Regions from separate parts of the Homo sapiens genome. Here region 1 is linked to region 2. Evidence: fine-mapped expression QTL. A gene starts in region 2. The other region holds a variant in brackets. All regions are shown on one strand. Distances are from middle to middle.

The links. PIP is the estimated chance that this variant, and not a neighbour inherited with it, causes the effect. A credible set is the group of variants that fine-mapping cannot tell apart.
Region 1: its variant is the best candidate, but not a certain one, in a credible set for the expression of PANK3 in fibroblasts (GTEx, PIP 0.56).

Annotation. Positions count from the first base shown.
Region 1 is chr5:168,538,957-168,554,327 of GRCh38, reverse strand. PANK3 (pantothenate kinase 3) reads left to right here. Exons shown (of 7, transcript NM_024594.4): 7 at 1-5,833. It also overlaps the pseudogene SLC2A3P1. Among named protein-coding and RNA genes, the nearest start is that of MIR103B1, 14 kb to the left of the region's middle. The variant A/G (reference allele first, on the strand shown) is at 7,896.
Region 2 is chr5:168,571,144-168,586,514 of GRCh38, reverse strand. PANK3 (pantothenate kinase 3) reads left to right here and starts at 7,147. Exons shown (of 7, transcript NM_024594.4): 1 at 7,147-7,259. The coding sequence starts at 7,232. RefSeq lists silencers at 2,624-2,673, 6,870-7,199 and enhancers at 6,716-7,259, 7,350-7,419.

The sequences.
Region 1 (15,371 bases), 32 kb after region 2:
CTTGTGTAATGTAAACAATTTTTTAAGCTCTTTAAAGTACATCTAGATTTACTGGTAATGTATAGAAGTCAATTTTATCCCCAAGCATTTCTACTTCCTAAACCATTAGCAAGAGTCTCAAAACAACTTCACTAAACTATTGGACCTCCAGTGTTAACTTGCCAACATAAAAATCTGAAAAACTTTGTAATCACTATCAAAAATACAAAAGAGAGAATAAATTCCCAGGTAAAAGGCTTTACAAATTTTGGAACTATTATGCTTTTGTTTACTAAACACTGATCCTTTTAGTAATTCTGCAGTATTGCCTCAGACTCCCACAAAGTTTCAAAATAGCTCATCTATTAGATTCCTGTAACATTTATTTGGGATAAACGTGGTTTTGTTGCCGTTGTTCATAATAGAATAAAATATTTAGCTTTGATGGTTCAGATGTAATACAAAGAAATAACTAAGTTTGGGCCTGAGATAAATGTGGTAAAGCAAGAATGCAGAGATGCTGTAATGATGAGTGAGTTTTATAGCATTACTGAGGACCTGAAAACTTGCTGCCAAGGACACTTTGAAGGTTTTGTTGGCTGGAAGAAGTGTCTCTGGAATCCCACTCCTAGCTCTTCTTGAATATTTGAAAAGAATTAGATAAGGGCCATGGGGACCCAGGTCACCCCACCTCTTCTTTTCAGTTTGGCTACAACATTGGAGTCATCAGTGCTCCTGAGACAGTCATACAGGACTTTCTCAGTTACACTTTGAAAGAGAGGTCAGAAGACTCTCCCTCTGAGGTTTTGCTCATGTCCCCCTGGCCCTTGTCTGTGGCCATCTTCCCCAATGGTGATATGATTGGCTCCTTTCTGTTGCACTCTTTGTCAACCACTTTGGCAGGTGCAGTTCAATGCTTATCATAATTTGTTGGCTATTACTGGTTGCCTTATGGGATTCTGCAGACAAGCTGAGTTGGTTGAAATGCTGATCCTGGGCCACTAGATTACTGGCTTGTAATGCGGACTCTGCACAAGTTTTGTGCCCATGTACATTGGAGAGATCTCGCCTACTCCCCTTTGGGGTACCTTTAGTGCTCTCAACCAGCTGGACGTCGTTGGTATTCTGGAGATCCAGATCTTTGGTCTGGAGTTCATCTTGGGGTCTGAAGAGCTATGCCCAGTGATACTGGGCTTTACCATCCTTCCAGCTGTCCTATAAAGTGTAGCCCTTCCATTTTGCCCTGGAAGTCGTAAGTTTTTGCTCATTAACAGAAAGGAAGAGTACTAATGAGATCCTTCAGCAATTGTAGGGGACTCAGGATGTGTCCCAGGACATCTAGGAGATAAGAGTGCTAGGATGATACAAGAAAAGCAAGTCACTACACTGGCGCTCTTTAGAGTACCCAGCTACCAACAACCCACTGTCATTTCCATCATGCTCCAGCTCTCTCAGTAGCTCTCTGGAATCAATGTTGTCTTCTATTACTCAATGAGAATCTTCAAGGATGCAGGTGTTGAGAAGCCAATCTATAGATTAGTGCAGGAGTGGTTAATATTATCTTCTTGACTGTAGTCTCTCTGTTTGTGGTTGAAAGGGCAGGAAGGACTTTACATATGATAGGTCTTGAGGCATGGCGTTTTGTTCTGTCCTCATGATTGTTTCTTTGTTATTAAAGGATGAGTATGGTGGGATGAGCTTTGTCTGTAGTGGGGCTATCTTGGTCTTTGTGGCCTTCTCTGAAGTTGGACCAGACTCCGTTCCCTGGAATACTGTGGCCACACTCTTCAGTTTGCAATAGCAGTGGCTGGTTGCTCCAACTGGACCTCCAACTTTCTAGTTGGATTGCTCTTCCTGAACAATTATTATCTAGTTTAAGTGTGTTGTTGCTTTAGGGTCATGGCATGCTTATGTATTTCTGTTACCATCTGACCATGGTACTATGCCAAGTTCTCTTAGGGGACCTGAATCTTTCCAGTAGACCACATTTGAGAGAGTATGAGTCAACTGGGCATAGTTCCCAACAACCCAAAATACATACGTACTTCACTGAAGCAGATCTCATGATTCCATTGACTTCATTTCTAAAATTGGACTTTGAGCAGCCAATTTCTAAGGATTAAAAAGAAACTTTAATGCATTGTAGACCTCTGTACACAGAAAAATCTTTGTAACTTTTGGGCTTAATTTTCATTCTTAAAAAATCTGGTAACTTTTTCAAATGCAACCACTGTCAGTTTGCTGTGAGGCTAGGCAAACAACACAAGGTATAGAATTTCCCATCACCACCACCCTGACCCCGCGAGAAGATTGCCTTTTAATTAGAGACTTGTAGAACTAGTGCCTTTTAAGTTCTACACTCATCTTTTCCAAAGACTATTAGTAAACTTGCCATGTAATTTGACATGGCAGTTCCTTGCTCAGCTACTCTAAATAAAGTTGGAAATTAGGTGGTCTCTTAGTTTGGGTAAAGTCAGTACTATTGCCAGTAATATACATGGTAATTGAAAGCCCTTAAAGTGGTTCAGATTATTTGCCAAATATTAGACTCTATAAAAATTTCTGAGGTTTTTTTTCTTTTACCTTTGAGTGTACATGTGATTGCTATAATGTAAATACCAGTCCCTTAAAGACTGTTTCTATAAGCAGAATGATGCAGCACAAAGTGGAAAGGTTTTCCTCTTATTCCAGCAGTATTCTTGCCTTCAAAGAGTAGTCCATCTTGCCTTGATTTTTAAGGTTGTTTTCTTGGATGGAAAGCTTAACTGGATAGTAATTTCCATATGTTCTTTATAACCACTCTGTATATTATAAGCAAAGTTTTTTCATATTGTATCTTTTTCTGTTGAGCACTTTATGCATTTTAGTCTATTGCATTTGAGAATGTAGTTTAGAAATTCACTGTTTAAAGCCATGTGAAAACTGATAGAGGATAATGAAAATGAGTGTACATTATTTTGAATTTAACTTAACTGTTTTGTGGTGGGTGTGAACAAAACATTAGAAATATATTATCTTTTTGTGATAATACTCTCTGACCTCACTTAAAGTGATCTGCCATGAGGTATCCATGATCAAGTTTATGTTTATTCTAATACCTAAGGAATTCAGCCAACTTTGTTTCTATCATCAGATAATCTCAGAAAATAGTGTGTTTTATCTATATTACTGCCTCTTTTCAATATTTAAGAGAATAATTGTCTTCTGGTTTCTACTGAGCCTAGTAATAATCACTAAAGACCTAAAAAAGGAATTCCTTCTGTTAAGAGTATTTGGATAGCCCATTCACGATAATGGTGGTGTGAAAATCAATCATCCCAGCTTTTCTGACATATCTAAATTTTGAATAATTAATTTCCACTTCCAAAAAATTCAAATGTTTTCTCAAAGCAGTCACTACTTATTTGCATTATTCCTGCATATTCAGTGAATGTGAGGTCATATTTGGTATTGTATTAGAAGTAGTGTTGGTCACTGGTCTTGCCTCTTTGAACATTATTTTTATTTGTAAAATGAGGGAGTTGGTTTGTTATGATGGGAAATGAGTCAGTTTTCAGGGTCCTGAGAAAATTGCTTCATTCATGGCTGTGTTTGAGATAACTAAAGTAAATTTTTTTTCAGGTATTTGGTGTCATGTTTTGGAGTTAATATTTAGTGCTTATATAATTTTAAGTTATTACATAATTTTTATTGGTATATATTTGATAGGTACTAGGTATTGGATTCTCACCAAACCAGTAGAATGGTATTCTCTCTTAATATGTGATTGCCTGTAATGGCCAGGTAGATATACCTTAAAGTAATATGAAAGGTTTTATATGTATATTAAAATGTTTGTACTTTTAAATCTGTAAAGGTTATCTGGAATTTTTACTGTGTTAACTTCAGAATTATATGGGCATTATGACTTTTTCATTGTACAAAAAATTATTCATAAATGTTAGAATACAGATGTTCCTTGACTTACAATAGGGTTATGTTCCAGTAGACCCATTGTAAATTGAAAATACCGTAAGTTGAAAATACATTTAATACGCCTAACCTACTGAACATCCCAGCTTAGCCTAGCCTATCTTAAATGTGTTCTGAACACTTAACGTTGGCCTTTAGCTGGGCAAAATCATCTAATACAAAACCTATTTTATAATGAAGTGTTTAATATCTCAAATAAGAGTATTGTACCACATATCGTTATCCCAGGATAATATCAGAGTACAAAATTTGAAGTACAGTTTTTAACTGAATGTGTATTGCTTTTGCCCCATTATAAAGTTGAAAAACCATAAGTCAAACCATTGTTAAGTCGGACTGTTTGTGTTACATATATTTGGGATTTTTTAGTGGCCCTTTTTAAAAAGCTGTTTCTTATTTCTGATCATTGTGAGTGGGGATAGATGTGGGAAGAACCATGTCTCTACTAAAAATACAAAAAATAGCCAGGCTTGTTGGCACACACCTATAGTCCCAGCTACTCGGGAGACCGAGGCAGGAGAATCACTTGAACCGGGAGGCAGAGGGCAGATCATGCCACTGTATTCCAGCCTGGGCAACAGAGTAAGACTCTGTCTCAAAAATGAATGAATGAATGAATGAACGAATGAATGTACTATGAGCTGATACTGGGATTTCAGGTACCGCAGTTTGTGCTGAATGATATGTTTGGGGTAAATCAGTTTTTTTCTTATAGAATTTCGGCGTTTTTGCTGCAACTGCCACTAATTTTGCATTTAAAAGAACAAAAGAGGAATGTATTTTTCAAAGGAGTGAATGAGGTTAAAATCAAGATTTTGAATGGTATAAATATGCAACTAATTCAGTTGTAGGATATTATTAAATTTTTTATTGCTAAATATGTTTCTTTCATACGTTGCAGTGCTTACAGTTCCAACAGCTTTCCAAGAAAACATTTCCATATTTGTGTTATTTGTAAAGTATACATAAATAATGTAAAATAATTTGGGATTATTTCAACTTTACATTGTATGTCTGAATTTCATCGATGTTGTACCTGGCTCAGTCAATAGTTGTCACAGGTATTAAGCCATTTTGGAATTTGCCACTTTTTTCTGGGTAACCTGTTTTAGTTTAGTTTACAGCATTTAGAAACAGAAGGTAACTTTATAGAAGTAACACCAATATCCTAGTCTGCTTGCCCCGAATATAACTAATAGTATTAGGATGTAAGCAATATTAAGATGGTTTTTATTATTTTTTATACACTGTGTGCTTTTACTTTTTATTTAAACTACAGCAAAAAACTGATTTTTTAACTAAAATTGAATGGCGTTTATCTTAATGACCAGTTATTGACCAAAGTGTACTCAGAAGATGTTATTATGTCCCAATCTAAGGAATCCTTTAATTTGGGGATTAATTTTACTTACACATGCCATTTCAGTTTCAGTTGCCTCATTCTATTACATCATTCTTGTCAAGTCTAAGCTTTATCATGTCTGAATTCTTTTAACACTGAATCTGTGATGTAAAAATGTATGATGTGCCATAAATTTTATTCATAATAAACTAAGTTATAGCCTATTGTAATCTGTAAAACATTTCTTGTAAATTACCTAATTTATTTTTTCATTTATGTACAGTATCTTATGTAAATTTGAAAAATGTTTGCCATGGCGCATTCTGTAAACATTCCCGTATTCTTTTCCTTAATGCTTATTTGCATGAAGGTAACTTGGGTTTTGCTTGTTTGTATTGGATAACCATTAAGCCAACTTCAGTTTCTCTGCCTTTTTTTCTGTAGTTTAACCATTTCTAATTTTGTTCATATTCTAAATAGATGTTAGAATCATACTTTTTATTTTCTACTTTCTAAATAAATTATCTAAGTTGTTTACTATGTGTGCCTTTTTATTATTTAACTTACATATTCCCACATTTTCACTGTGATTAAATGCAAGGTTGTGGTTAGTTCTGTGAGAGCAAGAACTTTGTAAAGTCTTGTTCACCTCTAGATCCCCAGTACCTGGCACAGAGAAGGCATTGATGAAATTCAGGGCTTGCATTTATTAAGATGTGAAAACTTGCCCCCCTGAGACCATGTTATCCTGCATCAGAAATGAATGTTGTTGGCTTTTTGGTTTTGGGTTTGTTTTTGTTTTTGTTTTTATATATAGTCTCTTTGTTGACTGAGCTGGCGTGTAGTAGTGCAGTCATAGCTCACTGCAGCCTCAGCCTCCCAACTAGCTGAGACTACAGGCATGCACCACCATGCCTGGCTATGGTTTTGTTTGTTGGTTAGGTGTTTGTTTCATTTTGTTTGTGTGGTGTGTGTGTGTGTGTGTGTGTGTGTGTGTGTAAATGGGGTTTCGCCATGTTGTCCAGGCTGTTCTCAAACTCCTGGGCTCAAGTGATCCACCCACCTTGGCATCCCAAAGTGTTGGGATTACAGGCTTTATGGAGTATGTGAGATGTTTTGATACAAGCATGCATGTGAATTAAGCACATCATGGAGAATGGAGTATCCATCGCCTGTTAAGTTTGTTTAAAAAAATCATCTTAATATGTGAGGCAGTAAGTTGGAAACTTGATGGCTGTGTTTTCAAATTGTATGATTGTCGTGGCTCCAGGCATAGTTTTCAAATCATATTATTGTCTTTACTTGGAGCGTAGAGGAATAGTTGAAAACGTGAACATGACTACCATGTGACATGTGAAGTACATATCTTTTATTTAAAAAAAATTAGCAAGAACTAGGATGAAAAAAATCTAAGATCTGGACTAAAGGAGAACATGATGCAGTATGGAAGAGATTTGAGGTGTAGTTTAGCTATTCAAATGTAGGAAGTACTGCTGTCGCAAGCACTTAGAAATAAGCTCCTAAAGAGCATACATTCAAGGCTACACACTTAAGTCTTTCATTTAAATAAACTTTCCAAGGAGGGAAAAGTCTGTACTGGAGTCAATACACAGTGCTATATAAATTTTGAAAGTGGCCAGGAGCAGTAGCTCACACCTACAATCCCAGCACTTTGGGAAACCAAGGCAGGTGGATCACTTGAGGCCAGGAATTCGAGACCAGCCTGGCCAATGTGGCAAAACCCCATCTTTACTAAAATTACAAAAGTTAGCTGGGTGTGGTGGTGCACACCTGTAGTTCCAGCTACTGGGGAGGCTGAGGCATGAGAATTGCTTGAACCCAGGAGGTGGAGGTTGCAGTGAGCCAAGATCGTGCCACTGCTCTCCAACCTGGGCGACAGAGCGAAACTCTGTCTCGAAAAAAATAAATTTTGAAAGCAGGATGTCTACTTTCTATGATATAGTCCTTAATGAGTGTATTGTGTACTGAACAAACTTTAATATTTCTGCATTTAAAAATCTATTGATCATTTTCTATGGTAATACTATAAGTTCCTATTTTAAGATATTCCTATACATCTGGTTTTGGTGGGTGGAGAGGAGTTTAAGATTTGACTTTTTCCCTAAAGTAAACCTGGAAAACCTGACTAGCTTCTGGAACTTTACATCCTTTTCATAGAAAATTGGTACTTTCTGATAGTTTTTAATGTTACCCAGAGGTTAACAATACCCCAAAAGTGCAGTTGACCATATGTTTAGGTAAGTAAGTGCTTATCCCCAGCCAGGGCTTTAAACATAACCTTTACAGTTTCTGGAAACAGTAGCAAAAATTACCAAAACTATGAAGGCATATTCTTTTTGATTTAAGCCCATTTTCCTCATTTTCTTCTAGCAAGAGTTTGGAGTCCAGCCAACCCAGATTTCTTTGAAAACAAAAAAACACAAAACATTAAATGATACCACTAAAAGAATTCAAGCACCTGGCCAGGCGCAGTGGCTGACTCCTGTAATCCCAACACTTTGGGAGGCCCAGGCGGGTGAATCACGAAGTCGGGAGATCAAGACCGTCCCGGCTAACACGGTGAAACCCTGTCTCTACTGAA[A/G]ATACAAAAAAATTAGCCAGGCGTGGTGGTGGGCACCTGTAGTCCCAGCTACTTGGGAGGCTGAGGCAGGAGAATGGCATGAACCCGGGAGGCGGAGCTTGCACTGAGCCTAGATCTGTGCCACCGCACTCCAGTTTGGGTGACCGAGCGAGACTCCATCTCAAAAAAAAAAAAGAATTCAAGCAGCTGAACTTGAAAAAAGTAACTTGGCCCTCCATATCTGTGAGTTACACATCTACAGATTCAGCCAACTGTGAATTGAAAACATTTGAAACAAAAAATAATACAACAATAAAAATAATATATGGAAGCTTGATGAGAACACCTGGACACAAAGGAGAATGACAGAAACTGGGGCCTACTTGAGGGTGGAAGCTGGGAGGAGGGAGAGGATCAGAAAAATATCTATTGGGTACTAGGCCTAGTACCTGGGTGATGAAATAATCTGTACAATAAACTCCTGTAACATGAGTTAATCTGTATAACCTGCACATGCACCCTGGAACCTAAAATAAAAGTTTAAAAAATAATGCAAGTAAAAAATACAGTATAACAGCTATTTGCAATGTATTAGGTATTAAAAATAAGGATAATTTAAAGTATATAGGAGTTCCCTAGCAAGCAGACTCAGAAGGGGAAAAAAACCATATAGGAGGATGTGTAGGTTATATACAAATACTACGCACTTTATATAATGGACTTGAGCATTCATGAATTTTGGTATCTGCAGAAGTTCCTGGAACCAATCTTCCATGGATAGAGAGACAATTGCACGTCATATAGCAGCTTTTTTAGTTGTCTCATTTTGACAGTTTGAATAAAATATTCTGACACCTTGTGTTTTCAGATTTCCTAAAGCACCTTTGCAGGTTTTCGGGACAAACCTGCAAAGTTTATTACTTCAAAAATGATTTCAGTGAATTTGTAATTAATCTTGCTGATTTTGGTTTAGTTTTGGGTTTGGACCTATTTATAATCAATTTTATTGAGGTATGGCTTATACATTAATATTCTAACTGTACATTTAAATAAGTTTGATAAATGTGTACACCCATGTAACCACCACTCCAAGGTATTTGCATCATTCCAAAAAGTTCCCTTCCTCCATCTTAGTCAGTCCCCTCCCATCCCCATCTGTAAGCAGCCACTGATTCGCTCTAGATAAAATTTGTCTTTTCTAGAGTTTTTATGTAGATATGTAGACTACATAAAAAGTCTTATGTAGACTAGATAAAATTTGTCTTTTCTAGAGTTTTTATGTAAATGGACCAATACAGTAGATATTCCCAATCTCTCTTTCTCTCCCAGCCCTAGACTTCATAGAGCTACTGTCTACTTTCTGTCCCTATAGATTTGCTGTGTTGTGTACTCTTGGGTCTGCTTCCTCTCAGCATAATGGTTTTGAGGTTAATCTATATTGTTATCAGTACTTCATTCCTTTTTACTGCTCATTAATAGTCCATTGGATGAATATACTACAATTTGTTTATCCATTCGCTTGTACATTTACATGCAAGTCTTTGGGTGGACCTATGTTTTTATCTGGGATAAATAGTGAAATTGCTGGATTGTATGGTAACTCTGTAAGAAAATGGAAAACAGTTTCCAAGAGGTTCCATTTTACATTCACTCCAGCAGTGTCTGAGAGTTCCACTTGCTCTGAATCCATGTCAACAATTGGTATTGTCCGTCTTTTAAATTGTGGCCATTCTTACCTGTGTGTCATATGGTCTGTCTGTGCTTTTAATTTGTGTCTCCTTGATTACTGATGACATTGAGCATCTTTTCAGATCCTTATTGGCCTTTCATATATATCTTCTTTTATAAAGACAAAATCTTTTGCCCATTTTTCATTGAGTTGTCTTGTTACTGACTTGTAAGAGTTCTTCATATATTCTAGTTAGAAGTCCTTTGTTGGATATATATTTGAATAGTTTCTCCAAATTTATGGCTTATCTGTTTATTTTCTTAATACTATTTTGAGGAACAGAGCTTCATCTTGTTGAAGTCCAGCTTCTTATGCTTACACTTTTTGTGTCCTAAGAAATCTTCGCCTAATCAAGATCATGGATATTTTCTCCTGTTTTATTCTAGGCAATTTGTAGTTTTAATTTTTATCTTTCAGCCTATAATCAATCAATCTTTGTGTATGGTATGAGGTAAGGGTTCAGGGTTTTTGTTTTGTTTTGTTTTGTTTTTTTGCATGTGGATTTACGGTTGTTTCAGTATCATTTGTTGAAAGTATCCCTTCTTTTTGGTTGTGTGGGTCCAGGAGCTGGAGGAAGACAGGGAGGAAACCTGTGGGTGTGGTGGATGTATTCATTACACTGTGATACTTTCATATGGGCGGGTATATATAGCAGAACTCATCAAATTGTCCTTTTTTTTCTTTTTCTCTGTGGTCCAGGCTGGAGTGCAGTGGCGCTATCTCAGCTCACTGCAATCTCCGCCTCCCAGGTTCAAGCAATTCTTGTGCCTCTGCCTCCCAAGTAGCTGGGATTACAGGTGCCTGCCACCACGACGGGCTAATTTTTGTATTTTTAGTAGATAGGGGATTTTACCATGTTAGTCAGGCTGTCTCGAACTCCCGACCTAAGGTGATCCGCCCACCTCAGCCTCCTAAAGTGTTGGGATTATAGGCATGAGCCACGGCACCCAGCCCAATTGTCTTTTAAATATGTGTGGTGTATTGTACATTGATTATACCTCAATAAAGCTCTTCTACAAAGATACAAAATAAACATTTATACTTGTGTCAACAAATTCAATTCTCTTCTCACCCTGATTATGAAATTTATGGTTTGACCCATTCTAGGCAAGCAAGTCAAACTAAATTATTGACATTCTGTTTTTTCTTGGGTTCATTTCCAATATGCTATTTTATTTATTTATTTATTTAGAGACAAAAGTCTCTCTCTGTCACCCAGGATGGAGTGCTGTGGTGCGATCTCAGCTCACTGCTACCTCCGCCTCCCTGGTTCAAGCGATTCTCCTGCCTCAGCCTCCCGAGTAGCTGGGATTACAGATGCGCATCACCATGCCTGGCTAATTTTTTTTAAAATTATTATTATTATACTTTTTAAGTTTTAAGTTACATGTGCACAATGTGCAGGTTAGTTACATATGTATATGTGTGCCGTGCTGGTGTGCTGCACCCATTAACTCATCATTTAGCATTAGATATATCTCCTAATGCTATCCCTCCCCCCTCCCCCCACCCCACAACAGTCCCCAGAGTGTGATGTTCCCCTTCCTGTGTCCATGTGTTCTCATTGTTCAATTCCCATCTATGAGTGAGAACATGCGGTGTTTGGTTTTTTTGTCCTTGCAATAGTTTATGGAGAATGATGATTTCCAATTTCATCCATGTCCCTACAAAGGACATGAACTCATCATTTTTTATGGCTGCATAGTATTCCATGGTGTATATTTGCCACATTTTCTTAATCCAGTCTATCACTGTTGGACATTTGGGTTGGTTCCAAGTCTTTGCTATTGTGAATAGTGCCGCAATAAACATACGTGTGCATGAGTCTTTATAGCAGCATGATTTATAGTCCTTTGGGTATATACCCAGTAATGGGATGGCTGGGTCAAATGGTATCTAGAAAACCCCATCATCTCAGCCCAAAATCTCCTTAAGCTGATAAGCAACTTCAGCAAAGTCTCAGGATACAAAATCAATGCACAAAAATCACAAGCATTCTTATACACCAATAAAAGACAAACAGAGAGCCAAATCATGAGTGAACTCCCATTCACAATTGCTTCAAAGACAATAAAATACCTAGGAATCCAACTTACAAGGGACGTGAAGGACCTCTTCAAGGAGAACTACAAACCACTGCTCAATGAAATAAAAGAAGATACAAACAAATGGAAGAACATTCCATGCTCATGGGTAGGAAGAATCAATATCGTGAAGATGGCCATACTGCCCAAGGTAATTTATAGATTCAATGCCATCCCCATCAAGCTACCAATGACTTTCTTCAGAGAATTGGAAAAAACTACTTTAAAGTTCACGTGGAACCAAAAAAGAGCCCACATCACCAAGTCAATCCTAAGCCAAAAGAACAAAGCTGGAGGCATCACGCTACCTGACTTCAAACTATACTACAAGGCTACAGTAACGAAAACAGCATGATACTGGTACCAAAACAGAGATATAGATCAATGGAACAGAACAGAGTCCTCAGAAATAATGCCGCATATCTACAACTATCTGATCTTTGACAAACCTGAGAAAAACAAGCAATGGGGAAAGGATTCCCTATTTAATAAATGGTGCTGGGAAAACTGGCTAGCCATATGTAGAAAGCTGAAACTGGATCCCTTCCTTACACCTTATACAAAAATTAATTCAAGATGGATTAAAGACTTAAACATTAGACCTAAAACCATAAAAACCCTAGAAGAAAACCTAGGCATTACCATTCAGGACATAGGCATGGGCAAGGATTTCATGTCTAAAACACCAAAAGCAATGGCAACAAAAGCCAAAATTGACAAATGGGATCTAATTAAACTAAAGAGCTTCTGCACAGCAAAAGAAACTACCATCAGAGTGAACAGGCAACCTACAAAATGGGAGAAAATTTTCACAACCTACTCATCTGACAAAGGGCTAATATCCAGAATCTACAGTGAACTCAAACAAATTTACAAGAAAAAAAACAAACAACCCCATCAAAAAGTGGGCAAAGGATATGAACAGACACTTCTCAGAAGAAGACATTTATGCAGCCAAAAGACACATGAAAAAATGCTCATCATCACTGGCCATCAGAGAAATGCAAATCAAAACCACAATGAGATACCATCTCACACCAGTTAGAATGGCAATCATTAAAAAGTCAGGAAACAACAGGTGCTGGAGAGGATGTGGAGAAATAGGAACACTTTTACACTGTTGGTGGGACTGTAAACTAGTTCAACCATTGTGGAAGTCAGTGTGGCGATTCCTCAGGGATCTAGAACTAGAAATGCCTGGCTAATTTTTGTATTTTTAATAGAGACACGGTTTTGCCATGTGGGCCAAGCTGGTCTCGAACTCCTGACCTCAAGTGATCTGCCTGCCTTGGCCTCCCAAAGTGCTGGGATTACAGGCGTGAGCCACCGTGCCTAGCTCTATAATGCTACTTTAGTCTAAACTCTTCTCAATGTCGTGAAGAAAAAATGGCCATCCTGAATCTTTTTTTTTTTTTTTTTTTGAAACAGGGTCTCATTCTTTCACCCAGGCTAGATTGCAGTGGCACGGTATCATGATTCACTGCAGCCTCAAACTCCCAGGCTCAAGCTGTCCTTCCACCTCAGCCTCCTGAGTATCTGGGACCATAGTTACGCACCACCATATGCAGCTAATTTTTTAAATTTACTTTTTGCAGAAATAGGGTTTCCCTATGTGACTCAGGCTGGTCTCAAACTCCTGGGCTCAAGTGATCTGCCCATCTTGTCCTCCCAAAGTGTTGGGATTACAGGCATGAGCCACCACGTCCGGCCCTGAATCTTTTTTTAAGAGACAGAGTCTCACTATATTGTCCAGGCTGGCCTCCCAACTCCTGAGCTCAAGCGATCCTCTCACCTCAGCCTTCCAACTAGCTGGGACTACAGGCATGCCCCACCACACCCAGCTATCCTGAATCTTAAAAAGACTCTTATCGTCTAAGAGCAAACTTCAAATTAGAGGTGCCCTAGGATTTTTCACATATCAAGAGCCAGTGACCAGCCAAACTTGGGAACAGAGAATCCAAGAGTTAGCAGGAATCTCACAGACTGCTGAATCAAACTCAAGATTTGTTTATAGGGAGGACAAAAAGTCCAGAGAAGTCAACTAGATTGTCCTAGATCACACAGCAAGTTATTAAGAGAACCAAAACTCAACCCTAGGTGTCCTCACCTCCATCCCAGTGCTTTTTTTTAATACCCTCTTTGTATTGGACAAATGGCATATGGCACCAGAATGTTATCCAAATAAATAATTTGGAACTGGGCGCAGTGGCTTACACTTGTAATTCCAGCTTTTTGGGAGACCAAGGCAGGAGGATTGCTTGAGCCCAGGATTTCAAGACCACCCAGGGCAATATAGTGAGACCTTGTCTACAAAAAATTTAAAAATTAGCTGGTGATGCCTGCCTGTGGTCCCAGCTACTAGGGAGGCTGAGGTGGGAGGATCATTTGAACCCAGGAGGCATAGGTTGCAGTGAGCCCAGATTGCACCACTGTACTTCAGCCTGGGCAGCAGAACAAGACCCTGTCTCAGAAATAATAATAATAATAAATTTTGTTATAACAAGAAAGAGCAATCAATACAGAAAAAGCAGGACAATTTAAATGTGGAAAAAACCAGAAAGATGAAAATATTAATGGGCCAAACTTGCCAGTTAGAGGAGTGTGAGATTTGAGTTTAAAAGGAAAACAACTTCTAGGCCAGGCACAGTGGTTCATGCCTATAATCCCAGTGCTTTGGGAGGTCAAAGCAGGAGGACCACTTGAGGCTGGGAATTCAAGAGCTACACAGGCAACATAGCAAGACCTTGTCTCAAAAAAAAAAAAAAAAATTAGCTGGGTGTGGTGGCACATACCTGTAGTCCCCAGCACTTTGGGAGGCCAAGCCAGGCAGATCACTTGAGGTCAGGAGTTTGAGACCAGCCTGGCCAACATGGCAAAACCCCATGTCTACTAAAAATACAAAAATCAGCTGGGCATGGTGGTGCATGTCTGTAATCCCAGCTACTCAGGAGGCTTAGGCACGAGAACCACTTGATCCAGGGTGGAGGATGCACTGAGCCGAGATCACACCACTGCACTCCAGCCTGGGTGACAGAACAAGACCCTGTCTCAAAAAAACAAAACAAAACAAAAATATTCTGGAGCATGAGTTCAAATCCTACTCTGACATAATTACTAGGCATAAAGTCTCAGACAAATTCTTAACCTGTGCCTTACCACATGCAAAATGAGGCTAATAATAGTATCTTCTGATGGTGGTCATTCATGTTCAGCACGGATTTCAATAAACCGCTTTTTAGCTACATGGTAGGATTGTGCTTGCTGGCTCCCTTGCAGTTGAGAGGGTGGGTTCATAGGATTAGCTCTGGCCAACTAGTGAGTGAGAGTTGTGTTTGGAAGTGGTGCATGCTACTTTTTGGCTGGAGCACTTAGTCACCTATTTGATACCCTCCAGAGCCCTCTTTTCCTGCTAATAGAAGCCAGCAGCCTTTGAGATAGTGGCTGCTCTGTCAGCCTGGATCCCTAAGTGACAAAAATTAGCAAAGCTCCTTTCTCCTCACTCCCTCACCACATTAATGAAGGTGGAGTATAAGGAAGAAAACAAACTGTTTTTTTACACCACAGATTTAGGGGTTTGTTACCCCAGCATAACCTGGCCTATCCCAACTGATACAGAAGTTGATACCAGAGATGGAATGCCACTGAAGAACAAAAACCTAAACTATGTGGCATTGGATTAGAGGC
Region 2 (15,371 bases):
ATGGGAGTCTCTTAGTCTTTTCATTTCCAAGTCATAACTCCTCTCCCATCCAGTCATTCTCCACAAAGCAGCCAAAATAATCCTCTAAATTCATGGACAAATCACTCCCTGCTTAAAATTTTCAGGTGGCCCTCAAGGGCCAGCAAGCTCAACTCTTTGATTAATCTCCTATCACTTTACACCTCACTCTCTACTCCTCACACATTGCTGCTTCTGTTCCTCAAAAAAAAATCTACCTTCAGGACCAGTCACACCTCTGTCGGGCACACTCTTTCCCAGCAATCTGCATGGGTCCCAGCTTAAATGCCACTTTCTGAGATTATCCTCCTTGGCCCATCCAATCTAGAATAAAGCCTGAACCCCCAACCAATCTTCCACAGCCCCAGCCACTCTTTAGCACATCAACCTGACTATTTCCTTCACATCACTTATTATAGCCTATTCTTGTTTATTGATTTGTTAACTTAATTATTGTTTCTCTCTTTTTCACCTCTCTCCACCCCCAGCAAGTACTCCAGTGCCTGGAAGATAGTTCAAGCTTAATTAGTATTTTTGAATTAAATTGTGCTTCCACTATCATGATAGTGATGATGACGATGCTGCTGCTGCTGCTGATAATGATGATGACAAGGATGATGACTGAGGATGCTAATATTCATGATGTTCTCCCCTAGCTTATTTGAGTTTGTGGATCCAATGACTGACTGAAGTATGTTCTTGACCATTTAATTAGAGACAGAATCCGCTGTTAAAAGCTTCATCTGGGCTTTGAAGGGTGTGTAGGGTGTGAGTGTATGTGTGTGTGTGTGCATGTGTGCATGTGTGCGTGTGTGCGCATGTGTGTGTGTGTGTTTATTCATACCAGGAGACCTATAGTCATCATTAGGTACAACTCACCACCTGTCTCTGTGGATACCCGCTCAGTAAAGGCAAAATGAAGATGTGTCAGGTCTCCTCTATCATTTTGCATGATGGGCTGGATTTATTGTGTTTCATAGACAATAAATATTGAGACAAGAAGACAGTCTCTTGGCCCCTTTAGATGCTTTTCCCAGCTCCTGCATTCACTCTGCCAGGAATGGGTTTTGAGGACATGCTAGAAAAGAGAGAAAATGCAATTAACCAGATGGTGCTAGGAGGAGGGACTGGGGCTGAAAGCCAACGCAGGCTGCAGAAGGAAGAGTGGCCACAAACTAAAACAGGATGACCTGTCAGTTTCAATCACACTGGTGAAAACTTTAGGAAACACATGGCTGAACACATTTCACATTGGTCCTGAAAAGGGAACAGGTTCTTAGTGAACTGAACACACTTCACATTGGTCCTGAAAAGGGAACAGGTTCTTAGTGAAATTCAAAAAGTAGAGATGAAAGAAATCTCTGGGCTGGGCACCATGGCTCATGCCAGGGTGAGCAAAACTCTGTCTCAAAAAAATAAAAATAAAAAAACCAGGCACAGTGGCTCATGCCTGTAATCCCAGCACTTTGGGAAGCCAAGGCAGGCAGATCACCTGAGGTTAGGAGTTTGAGACCAGCCTGGCCAGCAAGGTGAAACCCCGTCGCTACTAAAAATACAAAAATTAGGGAGGCGTGGTGGCAGGCAACTGCAGTCCCAGCTACGCAGGAGGCTGCAGCAGGAGAATCGCTTGAACCTGGGAGGCAGATATTAGGCCGGGCACAGTGGCTTACGCCAGTAATCCCAGTAATCCCAGCACTTTGGGAGGCTGAGGCGGGCGGATCACAAGGTCAGGAGATCGAGACCAGCCTGGCTAACACGGTGAAACCCCACCTCTACTAAGAATACAAAAAATTAGCCAGGCATGGTGGTGGGTGCCTGTAGTCCCAGCTACTGGGGAGGCTGAGGTAGGAGAATGGCGTGAACCCGAGAGGCGGAGCTTGCAGTGAGCACAGATCATGCCACTGCACTCCAGCCTGGGCGACACAGCGAGACTCCGTCTCAAAAAGAGAAAAAAAAAATCTCCAACAGTCATCTCATTTTGCAGATGGGTAATTTGAAGCCCAGAGAGAAAAAGGACTTTCCCAGGGTCACACAGCAATTGTATGGCTGATCTGAGACAGGAATTCTCACTATTCAAAGTTCAGTGATTTTCTGGCATAACAGACCAAAGAGTAGTCTCATCTTTGAACAAACAGCAAATAGATGGTTAACTCTAGTAATATCACAGGTGTATAGCCTAACTTTTAAGCTAAGTCATCCATGTGTACACTCATCTCTATGGCCACAGAAACTAGCAAGAGCCTGTGCCCAAAACTTACCCAAATTTCTGTGGCTTCTAATTTCTAGCTCTTCTTCCTTTCAGACCATGGCCAGACTATCACAAGACATACGTATCAATTCCCCTTTGACTTCCAAGCTGATACTGTCAAAGAGAACCAGAAACAACCAAAAGATATATGTTGTCAGAGAACTTGGTGTGCCCATAAGATTTATAAAAGCAGCAGGTAAATCATATTAGATAGTGAGTATTCTTTGAAGCCATGTCAGATCAGAAATCACGACTCTCATCCAATAAAACTGTGGAAAACAGGACCATTCTAGAATATCTAAGGTTCTGTGTGGGATAGAGTAATAACAGGAAATAAAAGAGGAAGTGCAGGTTAAGTCTACCATTCAGGATTCTAACTTGCCAAGTCATATTCCTGGTAGCTCAGAAAGATGTTTCTATAAAAAACAAAACAAAACAAAACAAATAAAGGCCAGGCAAGGTGGCTCATGCCTGTAACCCCAACACTTTGGGAGGTGAAGGTGGGAGGATGGCTTGAAGCCAAGAGTTTGAGACCAGCCTGGGCAACAAAGTGAGAACCCATCTCTACAAAAAATTAAAAAATAAAAAAATTAGCCGGGTGTTTTGGTCCATGCCTATGGTCCCAGCTACTCGGGAGGCTGAGGCAGGAGGATCCCTTGAGCCCAGGAGTTGGAGACTGCAGTGAGCAATGATCATGCCACTACACTTCAGTTTGGGTGACAGAGTGAGATCTCGCCACTACACTTCAGCTCAGGTGACAGAGTGAGACCTCGTCCCTAAAAAAAAATTTTCTAAACAACAAACATAAAATCTGGAATCAAAATAGTAAATCAAACATAAAATCTAGAATCAAAATCTGGTCTGATTGGTGCCATGTGGTTCCTTATCTTTTACCTAATTAGACCTATGGTCTGATCCCAAATAATGACCTTAGGCAAAATGTCTAAATACAAAAGCTTTCTTCCTTTACTTTACAATAAGAATAACAATCCAAGGCCACGGCAGGTGGATCACTTGAGGTCAGGAGTTCGAGACCAGCCTGGTCAACATGGCAAAACCCCATCTCTGCTAAAAATACAAAAATTAGCCAGGCGTGGTGGCACACGCTGGTAATCCCAGCTACTTGGGAGGCTGAGGCAGGAGAATCACTTGAACCCAGGAGGCAGAGGTTGCAGTGAGCCAGGATCACACCACTGTACTCCAGCCTGGGGTACAGAGTGAGACTCCATCTCAAAAAAAAAAAAAAAGAATAACAATCCAAATAATAAACATAATCATTACTTACTGATCACTACATATATGCCAGATAATATGTTACATACATCATAGTCCATGTTCTGTTGCTTTTTTTTTTTTTTTTTTTGAGATAGAGTCTTGCTCTATTGCCCAGGCTGGAGTGCAGTGGTGCGATCTCAGCTCACTGCAAGCTCCGCCTCCCAGGTTCACGCCATTCTCCTGCCTCAGCCTCCTGAGTAGCTGAGGCTACAGGTGCCCGCCACCATGCCCGGCTAATTTTTTTTGTATTTTTAGTAGAGACGAGGTTTCACCATGTTAGTTAGGATGGTCTCGATCTCCTGACCTCGTGATCCCCCCATCGCGGCCTCCCAAAGTGCTGGGATTACAGGCATGCGCCACTACACCCAGCCTTTTCTGCTGCTTTTAACAGAACACTTGAAACTGGGTATGCTATGTTGCTGGGGCTGGTCTGAAACTTCTGGGTTCCCAAAGTGATGGGATTACAGGCATGAGCCATCATGCCTGGTCTCACCATGTTGCCCAGGCTGGTCTCAAACTCCTGGGCTCAAGCAATCCACCTGTCTTTGACTCTTATGGTGCTAGGATTACAGGTATGAGCCACTGCACCTGGCCTCCGCCTCTTTTAATAAAGGTAAAAGATAAGGAACCACATGGCACCAATCAGACCAGATTTTGATTCTAGATTTTACGTTTGATTTACTATTACTCTTTTAATAAAGCCTCTTTTAATAAATCCATTAACTCCTTAAACCATCAATCCATGAATGAATTAATACACTCATGAGGGGAGAGTCCTCACGATCCATTCACCTCTTAAAAGCCCCACCTCTCAATACTGAATTCAGACCATGTTCGAATACAAACATTCAGACCGCCATGTTACCTTATTCGCATTTTTCACTTAATCCCCATCTCAAACCCGTGAAATGTAGGCATTATTATTTCCAACAAGAATCAGAGAGACGGCCAGGTACAGTGGCTCATGCCTGTAATCCCAAAACTTTGGGAGGCTGAGGCAGAGGATTGCTTGAAGCCAGCCAGCAGGTCAAGACCAACCTGGGCAGCAAAGTGAGACCCCATCTCTACAGAAAATAAAAAACTTAGCTGGACATGGTAACACATGCCTACAGTCCCAGCTACTCAGGAGGCTGAGACTACAGTGTAGCCACCGCCCCACCCACAGATTGCTCTTTGAGGTTACGGTGAGCTTTGCTCATGCCACTGCACTCCAACCTGGGAAACACAGTGGGACCGCATCTTAAAAAAAATTTTTTTTTTAAAGAATTAGAGAGATGAAGTAATTTGCCCATGTTTGTTAACAAGTGATAGAACCAATATTTGAATTTGTGTGAATTCTTCTTTAACTTTTAACATTTTTATTTTATTTTGGAGATGGGTCTCACTATGTCACCTAGCCTGGAGTACAGTTGTTACCAGAAAGGGATCCCGATCCAGATCCCAAGAGAAGGGTCTTGGATCTCTTCCAAGAAAGAATCTGGGGAGAATCCAGAATGTAAAATGAAAGCAAGTTTATTAAGAAAGTAAAGGAATAAAAGAATGGCTACTCCATAGGCAGAGCAGCAGCATGGGCTGCTCAGCTGCTTATACTTATTATTACTTCTTGATGATATGCTAAACAAGGGGTGGATTATTCACGAGTTTTCCAGGAAAGGGGCGGACAATTCCCAGAACTGAGGGTTCCTCCCCTTTACAGACCATATAGGATAACTTCCTGATGTTGCCATGGCTTTTGTAAACTGTCATGGCACTGGTGGGAGTGTCTTTTAGCATGCTAATGCATTATAATCAGCATATAATGAGCAGTGAAGACGACCAGAGGTTCCTTTCATTGCTATCTTGATTTTGGTGGGATTTGGCCAGCTTCTTTACTGCATGCTGTTTTATCAGCAAGGTCTTTGTGACCTGTATCTTGTGCCAACCTCCTATCTCACCCTGCAACTAAGAATGCCTTAAACTCCTGGGAATGCAGCCCAGTAGATCTCCGCCTTATTTCATCCAATCCCTATTCAAGATGGAGTCGCTCTGGTAAATGCCTCTGACACAGTTGCTATTCACAAACTCTATCACATACAGCCTCAAATTCCTGGGCCTCCCACCTTAGTCTCCCAAATAGCCGGGACTGCAGACACACACCACTGCGCCCAGCAAGTTTTTTTAGTTTTTAATCATTGTATTTCAAAAAGTAGTTGGGAGGATTAAATTTAAATTTTAAAAGTAAGGCACTTTGCAAAGTGTCAGCCCTTGGTATGTACTCAATAAATGGTAGCTTGTGTCCTCTCCTGTCCTTCTTCACATCCCTTGGCTTATCATCTGCAAGAAGGGGCAGTAAGGCTCTTTGGTAAGCGGGTTTCTTTGACTGGAATGCCCAATCCTCTACTGCCAACCCTCTATCCATCTATTGTAAAAACTACAGAATTCCTGGCCATCTAACTGGGCAACAAAAGTGAAGGCCAAGAGAAGATACCCAATGCCATCTTCTCCCATTCCAGCTGGAGGACTAAGACTCTAGGAGGCAAGGGGAAAGGGTGTCCTGGCTTTACTGTGAGAACTGGAGCAACTAAATTTTCTTCTCTGGGAGTCAGTTTTCCCTTTAGAAGGAGAGAGCTGGGCTGGAGGGCCCCAGGGGAATATGGATCGGTGGCAAAAAGAATGCTCAGCAAGCAATTTAACTCCTCAGACCGTGCCCCATCTTCAAAATGAGTGACAATAAAATGAATAATTGCACGTGGTCCACAAGGCCCCTGAATTTAAGTAAATCACACAAAGTGCTTAGCAGAGTCCCATGAACATAACGCGTTCCATAGATGTTACCTCTATTCCTGCTATTGTCATCATTCCGACCCTAACATTCAAGGTGTCTCTATTAAGCAAAAGGATTCCTTTGTGAATAATTTTAATCCGCCAATGTACTCAAGGGTCTATCTTAAGCACAGCTCTAGAGCCCTGATTGTAGCGCTTTCCATGGCCTGACGACCAGCTTTCCTGTCTCAAGGGGAAATCTGAGAATGGCCGAACAGCCATGACAGTCCTCTCGAAGAGTTCATTCCCCCTTCTCTCCGCGACCTGCTGAGGTCTGAGCCCGACTTCCCCAGCACGCCCATCTCAGTCACCATTGGTCGCCTCCTCGCTGGCGTGACTAAGACCCAGCCCTCTTCTCGCTGGGACCACTCTGAGGCGATCTGCGGAAGCTGAGGGGCCTCGGAGGAGGGGCCGCGATGCATCTCGGGCTTTGTAGTCCACCTGCACAACTACAGCCAGAGAGCGGGGCCTCACGAACCGGAGAACTACAATCCCCAGCAGCCGGGCGGAAGCGGAGCGAGGGGGGGCTCGCGTCACGTGGGCGTTCGGCCTGGGCGGGCTATTTCTCAGTGCGGCGGCGGCGGCGGTGGCGGCGGCTCCGGGGACCGGGGCCTTTTGTTTGGAGCGGCTGCGGGGGGGCCCCGGAGCGGCGAGGCCGGCGGCCTTCCCCAGCTTGCTCGGTCCCGGCCACCCCTCGCGGGGGTGGGGGGCCGCCCCCTGGGCCGGGCATCTCCTCAGGCGCCGCCGCCCCGCCCTAGGCCGGCCCCGCCCGGCCTGAGGGGAGGAACCGGCCGGGCCTCGCCGCGCGGCCCAGCCACCTCCGGAGTCGCCGCCTCTGCTCTCAGTGCCCCGGATCGGAGGCCGTCCATCGCCCCTCGGGCCGACGCCATGAAGATCAAAGATGCCAAGAAACCCTGTAAGACGGGGGCTGGGGCCCGCCAGGTTGGGAGGGCACCCTTGGGCCCCGTCTGAAAGCCCCTTGGCTGGGCGGTCGGCTTCCAAGCCCGTCGCTCCTCGCCGGCGCTTCGTCCGGTATGGGGGCGGAGGGACCATTTGAGCCACGAGTTCGAGGCTTCCGTCCTCCCCATCCCCCTATTCATGCATGGTGAATGCCTGCCGCCCCCTAGCCTTTCCTCCCACTTTCTCTTCGAGATCTGGGAGGTGCCAGAGGGAATTTCTGATTCTGATTTTTGTCAAACCAGACTAGTCTCCTCTCCCAGCTCCCCCTGAATTCAGGTTGAAAAGAGGCGGTCGCGGCTGTCAGGTTGCGCTGGCGGCTTTTAGCACCTGTTTTTAGGGATTTCCGGGCTTCCTGCTTGTGTCCTTGAAATGCCGGTGGGTTCCTGGGAGTTGTCACTGTTGTTACAGTTGGAGCTTTCAAACGTACGTGCATGCAGTCTGCCAGTGTGTAATTGCTTTGGCTTGTTTTTGTTTAGAATATCAACTAGTTCATGTTTGTTTTAGAAAACGCAGATAAACAAGAAAGATAAAGTCACCCGTATTCCCCGCACCCGGAGCGAACCGCTATTAATATTATGGTGAATACCCGTAGATATTTTTCTATGCATGTACTTAAATTCTGACTATGCTTTTAGAAAGGTCGACTTTCATTTGCTTCCTTTTATGTTTAGTCTTTTAAAAACCTTTTATTCCAGTAATTGACTTATTTAATCACCCAGCCATTGTGATTGTCACTCTTTTTAAGTATAGCCTCCCAGAAGGACTAGGAACGTGGGGATTCATGCTCATCTTAGAGTCGTATTGATACTTTTGCTGTTTTTACAGTGTTTCATGTGATCTCTTTAACTGTTAAGAAATCCACAACTATAAAACAGGGCGCTGACACCTTCCCTGCCCGCCTATCGGGGTTCCTGTAAAACTCACCTGAGAGGCAACAAGCCAAAACCCTGTGAAAACTACAAATTCCTATATAACTGTAAGGTAATTTGGTCTTAACTTCACAGGTGAGGAAATTGAACTTAGCCCCAGAGTAACTTTTCCAAGCATGTACCAACCATGTGCTATGTGGTTCATAACTCTAAGGGGACTGACTCATAATACAGTGTTCTTTCTCTTGCACCCATAGAGCATTGTCTAAGTACTTTATCTGGTAGTTTCATCTGTTAATTAAAATTTTTAAAAAATTATTTATAACTGAATAGATCCTGTCATAGTTGTTCAAGAAATCTATAAAATAGTGATGTGAAGGCTTAAATGAAAAGTAATATAGAGAGACTTTAAATTTTCATTTGCTGAATTAAACTAATGCATCTTGAACAGGTGCAGTAATTAGAACACTTGGACATTTTCCCTCACGCATACGTTTTCTCTGCTTCTCTTAGAATTTCCATTTGGTGAACAGTGTATGACCAACTCAAATTCTGACTCTTGTGGTGGTGATTATTTTCTTTTGTCATGATAGTGATTTGATTACTTAGATTTGAACAAACTAATAATCAGGTATGAGTACTACCTCCTTCAAAGGTGTTTTAGGAGAGATTATAAAGATTATTATGAGAAGTTTATAAAATAGGGCTAGGCACGGTGGGTCACACCTGAAATCCCAGCACTTTGAGAGGCCGAGGCGGGAGAATCGCTGGAGGCCAGGAGTTCGAGACCAACCTGGGCACCATAGTGAGACCTCATCTCTACAAATAAATAAATAAAAAGATTAGCCGGGCATGGTGGCACACGCCTGTAGTCCCAGCCAAAGACTTAAAAATACACATTAGGTTGAGAAATTAGAGAATACCCCCTGTTTTTCCCCAAATAAGTTGATTATTACAACATTGTGGTATGTTGTGAGACCATTAATCTTAAAATTGAATCATGCTGAAAATCTGGTCAGTTACTATGGTGTAGAAGCCTAACATTTTTATATGTAAAAGGTAACTTTACTGTCTGTTGTTTGTAGTAAAAGTAAGGAACATGACGTTTTGTGTGTGGGAAAGAAGGTATTTCAACCATGAACTGTCCCAGATAATAAAAAATAAGGCTGGACACGGTGGTTTACACCTGTAATCCCAGCACTTTGGGAGGCTGAGTGGGGCAGATCACGAGGTCAGGAGTTCGAGACCAGCCTGACCAACATGGTGAAACCCCATCTCTACTAAAAATAGGAAAATTAGCCGAGCATGGTGGCACGCGCCTGTAGTCCAAGCTGTTCGGGAGGCTTGAGGCAGGAGAATTGCTGGAACCCAGGAGGCGGAGGTTACAGGGAGCCGAGATCACGCCACTGCACTCCAGCCTGGGCAACAGAGCAACACTCCGTCTCAAATAATAATAATAATAATAATATTAATATTATTTTAACTTTAAATCACTCAGGTTAACAAAAGATATATTTGTTTTGTTTTTGAATACCTGTATGGGGTTTTTTTTGGCATAATTAAAACATTTATTGATCACATAGTGTGTGTATGGCATTTTCTTTATGTGCATTGCATCATTTAACTGCATACTAGAAGAAGCTGTATATTATATTGGCTAAACAAGTGACCTTGGCTTCACATTATTTACCTAAGTGTTAGAAAATATTTCTTCTAAATACATTACCAATATCTTAACAGGTTATAAACCCGAATGCATATATTAACCAGAAGATTTAAAAAGGAATTAGTTTCATCCTCTAAATTGTGTAACTGGAAGATTAGCATTTGAAATTATGTGTTAATTCAACGCCAGGGGAAGGAAGGAGAAAGTCAATCCTGTGTTACTCTCTTCCCTGCCTGCCATGATTTCTTAGGGTACAGATTTTTAAGATTGTGTTTGGGTTACCTGTATAGCATGTAACTGGATTAACAAGGTGATAGTAAAAGGTGATACATGTATTTAAGTGTGGTGTGATGTAGGTTTTGAGTTTGTGCTTTATTAACCCAAGTAGTAAGGTACTTGAAATTTTTGTTAAGACCAGAGAAAATGGTATAGCATATATTTGTAGTTTGTGTCTGTGTAATTTGATTGGCCTGTTGTAAACTCAGTTGTAATATGAGTCATCACTCCCAGTAGATAGTTGGGGTAGTAGTTTCTAATATAGCTCCCCTTAGAAATAACTAATTTACTAAAGAAAAAACCACTTACCTGAAGCTGTCCTAAGGAATCAGTACTGAGGGTCTGAAGATGATTATTTTCTTAAGTCTATTTCAGAACAAAACCCATTTTTGTTTGGAATGATTATTGAGAATAGTGAAATGTCTTATCCAGGAAGTTGAAGCGTTATCTAGAATATACCAGCATACATGCTAACTTTATAATTTTGTTCTTTTAAAATACCCTATGTTTCGAGCGTTTTTCATGTTGGTTTCCCTTTATGCCTAAAGAACAATTAAGTACTGATTTAGTTTAGTATCTCCCCCCTCCCCTATTTCTTTTTATTTTTTTTCTTTTGAGACGCGATCTCACACTGTCACCCAGGCTGGAGTGCAGTGGCACGATCTCAGCTCACTGCAACCTTGGCATGCCAGGCTCAAGCAATCCTCCCCCCTCAGCCTCCCCAGTAGCTAGAACTACAGGTGCTTGCCACTATGCCCAGCTAATTTTTTTGTTTTTGGCAGAGATGGGGTTTTGCCATGTTGCCCTTGCCAGGCTGGTCTTGAACTCCTTAGCTTAAGTGACCCTCCCGCTGGGATTACAGGCATGAGCCATGTTCCTGGCCAGGATCCCTTTAGTCTGAAATCTGCATGGTACCAGTAGCAATTAAATAGTTATGTTAGTGTTCTCTGCTTCCTTAGCAAACACTTAGTAGGATACTGAGTTTATCACACCTTGTTAGAAATTAACAGTCTGCTCTTGTGGCTAGATAGCTTCTGCTGTTTAGTATCTTAAAAGGTGATTGGACAAGAAGATTTCTCCTTTTGCATATATAATGCGTCTGGTAAGACATAGCACTTCATCCTTGTAGTAGTTTGAGATATTTTTGCTACATATGGGGAACTAATGTCAACTCTCATAAGACCACTTGAGACATAGAATAAGAGCTATTATTTTGTTAAAGGCATAATGAACAGGTCATGAGAGATTCTAATAATTCTCACAGTCTGGGACTGTATATTGACCATCATCAAAGTGCTTATATTTGTGTAATGTGTGTTTTGTTTTGCTTTTTAAATGTGTATTTTGGTTCTTTTTTTTCACCTTAGCAAGGAATGTTTTATTCTGAAAAAAAAAATGTTAAGGTTATATGCCGTAAGTAGGCTGCTTGTGCACTGATGACCTACTTTTCAAGGGTCTCTTGGCTAGAAGCAACAAAGCTATAAATATGTAGATACTTGCTTGATTTCCTAGGAAACTGGTATTTTTCTCTTTTTTTTTGAGATGGAGTCTCGCTTTTGTCGCCCAGGCTGGAGTGCAGTGGTATGATGTCAGCTCACTGCAACCTCTGCCTCCTGGGTTCAAGCAATTCTCCTGCCTTAGCCTCCCAAGTAGCTGGGATTACAGGCACACGCCACCAAGCCTGGCTAATTTTTGTATTTCTGGTAGAGACGAGGTTTCACCATGTTGCCCAGGCTTGTCCGAACTCCCGACCTCAGGTGATCCACCCACCTCGGCCTCCCATAGTGCTAGGATTACAGATGTGAGCTACCGCACCAGGCCAGGAAACGGGTGTTTTTCTTACCTCATGGAACTATTAGGTGGACCTGTGGTTGTACTTAATGTCTGTATATTTACTCATATTTTCACTGCAAATAAGTAAAGTTTGAGCTTCATGCCCTCCCCTTATTTTGGTGACATATATCAATCATAAGTATTTTGTAGATAATACTGGAAAATATATGTTGGTAATTAGACCACTTACTAAAAAAACAAACAACCCCATCAAAAAGTGGGCGAAGGACATGAACAGACACTTCTCAAAAGAAGACATTTATGCAGCCAAAAAACACATGAAAAAATGCTCACCATCACTGGCCATCAGAGAAATGCAAATCAAAACCACAATGAGATACCATCTCACACCAGTTAGAATGGCAATCATTAAAAAGTCAGGAAACAACAGGTGCTGGAGAGGATGTGGAGAAATAGGAACACTTTTACACTGTTGGTGGGACTGTAAACTAGTTCAACCATTGTGGAAGTCAGTGTGGCGATTCCTCAGGGATCTAGAACTAGAAATACCATTTGACCCAGCCATCCCATTACTGGGTGTATACCCAAAGGACTATAAATCATGCTGCTATAAAGACACATGCACACGTATGTTTATTGCAGCATTATTCACAGTAGCAAAGACTTGGAACCAACCCAAGTGTCCAACAATGATAGACTGGATTAAGAAAATGTAGCACATACACACCATGGAATACTATGCAGCCATAAAAAAGGATGAGTTCATGTCCTTTGTAGGGGCATGGATGAAATTGGAAATCATCATTCTCAGTAAACTATCGCAAGAACAAAAAACCAAACACCGCATATTCTCACTCATAGGTGGGAATTGAACAATGAGAACACATGGACACAGGAAGGGGAACATCACACTCTGGGGACTGTTGTGGGGTGGGGGGAGGGGGGAGGGATAGCATTGGGAGATATACCTAATGCTAGATGACGAGTTGGTGCAGCGTACCAGGATGGCACATGTATACATATGTAACTAACCTGCACATTGTGCACATGTACCCTAAAACTTAAAGTATAATAATAATTTTTAAAAAAAGATTTAAACAAAGGAGTGTATCATAATTGAGAATTTATGTCTCTTCTGTTTGTGCTGCCTTCTTTGTGCCTTTTTTTTTTTTTTTTTTTTTTTTTTTTTTGCCTTGCTGAGGTTCTGCATCTCGTGCTTTTTAATAGTGATTATTTTTCTGGCATAAAGAAATTAATTTCTGAAGTCTATTGAATTGAAAGGATTTCAGTGTAAAAGGTGGCCATTACCAGCCACCAACTTTTCTTTTTTCTTAATTGAAGTTATAGCAGGGCTGAGTTCTCTTTCAGTCCCTGCTTTGTTGATTTTAAGGAGAAAATTGTTATAACTGATATATGCTAGAAATAATAGAAGGAGCCTGCAATTTTCTGGTTTGCATATTATGGTTCCTATGAAGTCATCATCTGCAGGATAGCTCTCTAGTTTACCTTTCTTTAAAAACAGCACTCAAGGAACGAACACATTTCTAGTAGGCTAGATTTGGACCTTGTGCCTTCTGTTTAGTTTCTCAATTCATCCAAAACCGTATCCAGGCCATCACCAATCATTCTATACAACAAATGCTCCTTCTAACAACCCCACAATATCACCCCTTACCACAAAATCTTTCTTCAGTTGAATCTCTCCCACACTAGGTTCCCACGCCACCCCTAATCCCACTCGAAGCAGCCCTGAGAAACACCGCCCATTATCTCTCCATACCACCCCCAAAGTTTTTTGCTGCTCCAACACTTCACCACTATTTTGTTTTGAGTTTCTTATTAATATAAGAAGACAGGAACATCAGGCCTCTGAGCCCAAGCTAAGCCATCATATCCCCTGTGACTTGCACATATACATCCAGATGGCCTGAAGCAACTGAAGATCCTCAAAAGAAGTGAAAATAGCCTTAACTGATGACATACCACCATTGTGATTTGTTTCTCCCCCACCCTAACTGATCAATGTACTTTGTAATCTCCCCCACCCTTAAGAAGGTTCTTTGTAATTCTCACCACCCTTGAGAATGTACTTTGTGAGATCCACCCCCTGCCCTCAAAACATTGCTCCTAACTCCACTGCCTATCCCAAAACCTATAAGAACTAATGATAATCCCACCACCCTTTGCTGACTCTCTTTTCGGACTTAGCCCGCCTGCACCCAGGTGAAATAAACAGCCTTGTTGCACACACACACACACAAGGTTAGGAGATCAAAACCATCCTAGTCAACATGGTGAAACCCCTTCTTTACTAAAAATAAAAAAATTAGTTGGTCGTGGTAGTGCACACCTGTAGTCCCAGCTACTTGGGAGGCTGAGGCAGGAGAATTGCATGAACCCAGGAGGTGGAGGCTACAGTTAGCAGAGATCATGCCACTGCACTCCAGTCTGGGCCACAGAGCAAGACTCCATCTCAAAAAAAAAAAAAAAAAAAAAGGCCTATGTTGCTAGGCACTCAACAAAACTGAGAAAATATAGTCACTTTCTTCTGCTTATGTTGCTTAGTTATTTATACCTGTTTATAGTTGACGTGATGAAGTATTGTGTTTGAGCTCAAAGCTGCCCCTGGCTTCCCAAATTATGGTCTAATGTCATTTTACTTTTTTAAAAAACTTTTTTTCCTACACTGGAAGTACCTTTCCAGAATACAGAATACTGTTTCTTAAGATTATCTGTAATGTAGCTCCAGATCTCTAATTTGAGTTTCAAATATAAAGACGAACGAGCTATTTCTCCAAAAGAAGATAATGAGGATTACTCCTTCCTCGTATTAAAAATTATATACTAATTTTAGTAAATGTGTAAATTATAAAATGGAGAAATGTATAGACTTCTTTCTCATTGAATTATATGTTCCTGGTTTTGTAATGCACACACATATCAAATAAAATGAGAAAGTAGAATTTTAGAAATAATTTTTATTGGCAACTTTTACATAAAAACTGTTAAATATATTTTGTTGCCAGACATTTTAATCCATGTATCTTGAGTATTAAACTCTTTTTGAGTCTCTGTCATAATAGTTAAGATCCTAGAGAATAGAAATATATATTTTTAGGATGGAATCTTGGCACTGTCACTTAACAGTTTGACCTCAGGCAAGTTTGTAATTGCTTTGCCTCCTTGTCTAAGTGGTACACTTAATAGAGCAATCTTATAGTGGGGGTACTGAGGATTAAATGAGCCTGTGTCTGACAGGTAGTGAGCACTCAGTAAATGTTAGCTGTAATTCTATGAAGAACTGAATCAGTTGTGCTTTAAACTAATTCTAAAAATTTGAATTTTGTAATTCATAATATTATAATACTGACTTCCTTGGGAACAATTGGAAAATACTCCTTTGTGTCAGTATAAGGATTGTGGCCAATAAATATAAGGAAATCACGTTGTAAAACTGAATTTC